Regions from separate parts of the Homo sapiens genome. Here region 1 is linked to region 2. Evidence: fine-mapped expression QTL. A gene starts in region 2. The other region holds a variant in brackets. All regions are shown on one strand. Distances are from middle to middle. Region 1 holds the start of TRV-CAC1-7 (tRNA-Val (anticodon CAC) 1-7). Region 2 holds the start of FCGR1A (Fc gamma receptor Ia).

The links.
Region 1: its variant is fine-mapped to the expression of FCGR1A in blood mononuclear cells (TOPMed, PIP above 0.99).

Annotation. Positions count from the first base shown.
Region 1 is chr1:149,711,278-149,714,189 of GRCh38, reverse strand. TRV-CAC1-7 (tRNA-Val (anticodon CAC) 1-7) reads left to right here and starts at 1,566; the gene lies at 1,566-1,638. The variant A/C (reference allele first, on the strand shown) is at 1,552.
Region 2 is chr1:149,781,082-149,783,952 of GRCh38, reverse strand. It overlaps FCGR1A (Fc gamma receptor Ia), which reads right to left and starts at 1,259. Exons shown (of 6, transcript NM_000566.4): 1 at 1,179-1,259; 2 at 763-783. The coding sequence starts at 1,209. It overlaps LOC124904411, which reads left to right. Exons shown (of 2, transcript XM_047438183.1): 2 at 693-1,063. It also overlaps a transcript of H2BC18 not described here.

The DNA of each region.
Region 1 (2,912 bases), 70 kb after region 2:
TCCAGTTTAGGATGCAGTCCAGTAGATGGTGCTTAAGAGTCAGGGCTGTTACGTAGGCTGGTGTCCAGTGGAAAAACCTGCCCTGACAGGATGGTGGGAAAGAGATCATGTCGGGGTGTGCTGAGGTCTCAGGGGAAGGGGCAGAGGTGCACTAGCTCCTCCTCCTGAGTAGGCAAGAATGTGATCCGCTTCCCTATCATGCCCTGTCACAGAGCTCACAACCTTCATTTTATAAAGACTTTGTCCTTTGGTTCCTGGCTGTGGTGCAGCTGAAGTCTGTGGATATGCCACTCTGACAGCTACCACTAAAATGGGGTTTAGGGCAGAGCCTCTTCCCCGAGTCCAGGGCAGGCAACTCCATGGTCTGTCCTCCATTGCCAGGGCACTGCAGCTCTGTATAGGGAGGGAGAGTTGGGCCCGTCCTTCCTGAAAGCCCAAGCAGCACAGGCTCACTTTCAGCCTGGGTGGTGCCACCATGAATAACGTGCATAATGTTCTCTCCTGGTGCACACTCACTGGGTCCTGGAGAAAAGAACCACTGCTATGTCTGCAGCCATATACGGGGTAGGAGAGAGATGATCCCTGCTTTTCCTGCTTTTCCACTCCTGTTCCTGGGTGTCAATGCTGCCCCCTTCTGCGATTGGTGCCATGCCAGTGTTTTCTTCGTCCCTAGGAGGGCTTTGGGACAGTGAGCAAACAACTGTTCTGATAAACGCAATTTAACCCGCGACCCTTGGCTCGCTCAGGTCGTGGGGTTGGGCCGCCTTTGCGCTTTTCCTTTGGATCTGCCCTTCTTCTGGGTTTGTTCTCTCGAGCTAGGGGAAGGCCTGGGTCCCCTCTCTTTGGCTCCTCTTGCCGTATCAGAAACCTCACACTTCTTCCTTTTCCAGAGAAGCTTCAGAGTGCTTTGTTGGGTTTGCTGGAACTCGGCAGGGCGCAGTATGTGGGGATGCGCGCTGTGAGTCTCTGTTTCCTCCGCTGTGACGGCTCTTCCCGCTCCTGTAGGAAAAGGCAATGCCCCTTTTGTCTTGTCTATGTGGGACTCCAAAGGGTCCAGACGAGACAGAAAGGGGGCGAATCCTCTCAGAGTGGGCAGGGGAGGAGATACAATATGGGAATGGGGCGGTAGAGGGGTGGGATTTCATGAAATTTCCTGATTTAAGGCGATCATGAAGTAGGCCTCTTTGGGAGCTTGGCCCTCCAGTCGCTGGTAAGGGTAACAGCCCACCAGTCTCTGGTGAGGTCCAGTCGCGTCCCCCGACTGCATTTAGAGCCAAAAGCAGAACGAGGCCGGCTCTGCGGCCTGGCGTCCAGTGACCCAGCTGTCTGCATATTCCCCAGGGTGGAAGCACTTGGACTTCAGGTGTGAAGGCAATGCGGTCACCACCACAGTAAGAAAAGCAACTAGGGAAAATGGCACCTTCTTCTCCCAACTTTTTTTTGAGACTCTCGCTCTGTCGTCTAGGCTGGAGTGCAGTGGTGCGATCTCGGATTTGGAAACTATAATAGAAACGGCCGATCTAAGATTTTCATGGTTATATTTTGCCGTGC[A/C]GGTACTGCTTGTGGTTTCCGTAGTGTAGTGGTTATCACGTTCGCCTCACACGCGAAAGGTCCCCGGTTCGAAACCGGGCGGAAACATAGGTTTTTTTTTTTTTTTGTTTTTGTTTTTGTTAGCCCTTAAATTTAGTGAGTTTACTCGAGGTTGGAAAACAGAAAAGTAGTTGAACCTGTGACTACATTTTAGACCTCATCAATCTATACAGATTGTCGACCAGGCTACAATTTCCACTGGTCTGCCAGGAAGAGGACGTCACAGCAGGCCTGCTTAATATTAACTTTGGTTCCAGCAATTCCTTAAGGTTCTCTTCATTCTCTTTATCGCCTGAATTTTCACAGGCAGACACCGAAAGTGGATGACATGTTAGCGCATTTCCTAAGGGTCCAGCTTGGCTTCGCTTTACTCTGATACAGTTGCAGATCTGGCTGATTTGCGAGACAACAAAAACAAAATGTTTTTTAAAAACGTTCCAAATCTGCATCTGGAACTCATGGAGTCAATATTCCGAAATCACACGAATTATGTACACACATTTGCATGCATACCCCTTCCCCAAATAATCCTCAGAAAACCGGTAAGCGTCCAAACTACTCTCCGGAGGCTTAGGTAATCAACAATTTAATAAATACAATTGCTAATGTATGGTGTACAGATCCTGTATTGCCCACCCTTCTCTATTGCTTTGTCCCCGCGCGCCCTCTGTTTTGCCTAAATGGGTTCCAGGCCATAGCCACCGACTCTCGCTTTGCCTTCTGGCCTCTCGGCAGTGCGCTTCAGCACCATTGCGCCAGGTGACGCTGCTGAGAACAGCTGAGTGGCCGGCACTAGTGCAGCTGGAAGCCAAGGCCCAGAATTCTCAGGAATCTGCACTTTACCCAGGCGAAAAGCCCAAGGGCTCTCCCCACAGCTTCCCAACATCCCTCTACAGAGTTTTTAAATATTAGACTTATTAACCTGTAGAGATGGAGAGAATCAAAGAAATCACAAGGTATCTCTGAGGGAAAAAGAAGAGCACCAGCAGTAAATCACTTAAGAGTATTGAACCAGCAAGCCAGGGATAGGAGAATGGAATGGAAACTGACAGGATGACTGCAGAGGGTGGTACTGAGGGTGGATGCGAACCACTACTTACTATTAATATATTGAGCCAAGCACACTAATGGGGGCATAACCAAAATACTTAATAGGGCACTCTTTTACCCACCATGTGTTTTACAATATAGTTGCTAAAGGATGTATCACCCTACTGGTTCTAGAAGCTTCTGGAGCCAAGGAGCCAGAGCATGAGAGCATAAAAATCCTGTCAATTGAAGCCTTGGGCTCTACACTGCTAAGCCTGGCCCAGAGGCTGGAT
Region 2 (2,871 bases):
GGAGGGCTCTGAGCAACTGGTGAGGCTTTTGTGGATAGCACAAGGGAAAAATACATATTTAGATTTATTTGAAAAATAGGCAAGTGGAAACCTACAAAAGCCAGCCTTTAAGAGTGTCCTCCTGCTGCAGAGACCTCTGTTCATTGTTATTAAATCCTCATCTGGGTGTTGGGAATCTGGGGCTCCTGAGGATTAAATTACTGATGTAGGTTTTTCTGTTGGGAGCAATGAAGCAGGGTTTTAGACTTGGGCAAGCCAAGCGGAGCTGTTTTCCTTATCCTCTGAGCTATACTGTCTCTGAGAGTACATTGCAGGGCTTCAGCAGCTTGTACATTGGAAACGGAGGTTCAAACTCCTCTCTTTGAAGCCTTCAGTATTTGCCTGGCTCTTTCTGAGGAGAAAAAACCCACTCTGCTTTCTTGTAAAGGGGACTGGTTTAGGGGATGTTGGGAAACCCAGCAGACTACTTCAGTGTCAGCAGACTACTTTAGTGTTTGTGCAATTCTGGCCCTTTCCTGCTGTTATATATACATTCAGGCATTTCGCTCAGAGGAAAGAGCTCATTCAGAAAACTTTAGAAAGAAAGCTTACAAATCATAGTTTTTATGAAAATCATGCTCTGAATATGGGAGATTTTACATAATTTATAAATCTTTCTTCTTTCTCTGCTTTCCCTATATGCTCTTCTGCAGGTTAATAGGACCCATCCTTTGGAAGTAGGAAAGTGGCATAGAAGGAGAAGCTGAGTTAGAGATCACTCACCCACTTGCCCATCAACTGGAACTGCAAGAGATCAGAGAATAAAGATATCAGTTGGTCCAAGGAAAATAATGAGGAAGAGAGAATTGGGGAGACAGAATTAATGTAGACTCTGAGGGATCAACTCAGATCTCTTGAGTTTCTATTTCTCTTTCTCAAAATCCAGTACTAACAGAACTGAACAAGCTACAGGTGGTTATCAAGGAAACTTCACTGCGGTGCGTCCAGGCTTAATGCTACCTCAGGGTTGCCCTTCCCATCCTTTTCATAAAATAAGCTCTAATAAACCATGGAAGCACAGATACAAGTTGCTTCATACTCATGAGTTCTACCCAGAGTTACCACAGGAAGACAAAACTCTTGACTCACAACAGCCACAGCCTGTACCCTTCTAACTGTCCCCTCTGAGTCCAACTTACCCCAAAGGAGCAGAGTTGTCAAGAACCACATGTTGTCTCCAAGCTGGTGGGAGCAGTGAAATCTGTAACATGCAAGATATTGAAGAGGTTCTGCTGGTGGCTCCAGAGCCAAATTAGAAAAGAGGAAGGAAATTGCCTTTTCTGACCATTTTCATCATGTTGCTTTTCTGGGAAATACATCTCAAATTCTTGAAACATGCTTTTCCCATGCTCATACCTGTTAGCCCATCTCTCCCAGTTTGAATCTCTGATTTTCAGGTTATGAACTCTCAGAATCCAGGGAAAAGGCTAAAGTTGTATTGACATTCTATTCTATTTTTACCCTCTACCGTTTCTGTTTCTTACGGTTAGAATATGGCAAAACCTCACTCTTTATAATTGGTTCAATGCCTGGCTAATGCCTCCAAACAATCATTTGAATCCAGAAGTTTCTATATCAGCCTCTATGAGGCCATGGGAAAAGTTACTCATCTACAAGAGCTGCCCTAATACAAACCAGCCTCTGCTCCTCTAGGGGACACAGACAGGATCAATCTCCCATTTTGGTTAAAAAAGAAAACAAACTCTCTTCCTGAAAGACATCATGAATTTGGAGTGTTTATTTTGGCTAAATCCAAGGTAATTAATTGTTTAATGTGGATGCTATGGAGAAGAAAAATAACTCATGCACATGGATAGCAATATCTTCAAGAAAAGAGTTTCAGAGTACAAGTGGGGAGCTCTGTGCCACCAAACTGAGGTGGCTCCTGAGACAGAGTTGTAACCCCATAAAAAGATTTTTAGGTATTGTGGTAAGAGAGAAAGAGAGCTAAATGGAAACTAAATGAGAGCTAAAAAAAGAGAGCTAAAGAGAGCTAAATGAATTCAATGAGTGCAGAGAGACTTTGGCAATCTTACTAGCAGAGAATGAAAAATGATGACAAATCATGCTGTAAGTTGGTGTACTGGCCCCAGTTTCTCACCGCTCCCTGAATCTACACTCTCTCCACAGCCTCATGAGGGTATGTCTCTGACTCTTGACTGTGGCTCATCATGAGACTTTCATTGGCCAGCGAAATGTGAATGGAAATGACATGGTGCTAATTTCAAACTTAGCACTTAGGAAGCTTCACACATTATCTCTCACCCTCTTGTTCTCCTGTGATTGCTGAGACAAGAACATTTTTTAGCTAGTCAGCCACAGTGCGAAACAGAGCTGTCCTAGACATTGTGGCTTGAGGCAGAGCTGCCTCACCTGCCCTGCAAACTTGTAAGTGAGAACTAAATGCTTACCTTTATATGCTACTGAGATTTGAGGATTGCTATACGAGCAAGAGCTGACTGACACAAATGAAAAGCAAGGAAGAAAGGCCGGGAAGAACTCAGGGTGTTCTGAAGAGACGAGAGAAGCCTCAGCTTGTTAAAATTTATATTCAAAGCCTATATCTGTAACTATTTTACTATTTTGTCTCCAAAGTTTTCTACTGTATGCATGTACCATAATTTATTTCACCAACTTCTCTTCATGAACATGTAGGTTATTTCTAATTTTTTACTGTGTGACCAGTAAAAAAGACTGCTTACTACCAAAATAGTCTTGTGACTACCTTTAAACATTTGACTTATTTTTTCCTTAGGACACATTCCTAGAATCAGTAGTGCTTACTCAAAGGAAATGCGCATTTTTTCCTTTGGATAAGATGCTATCAGATTG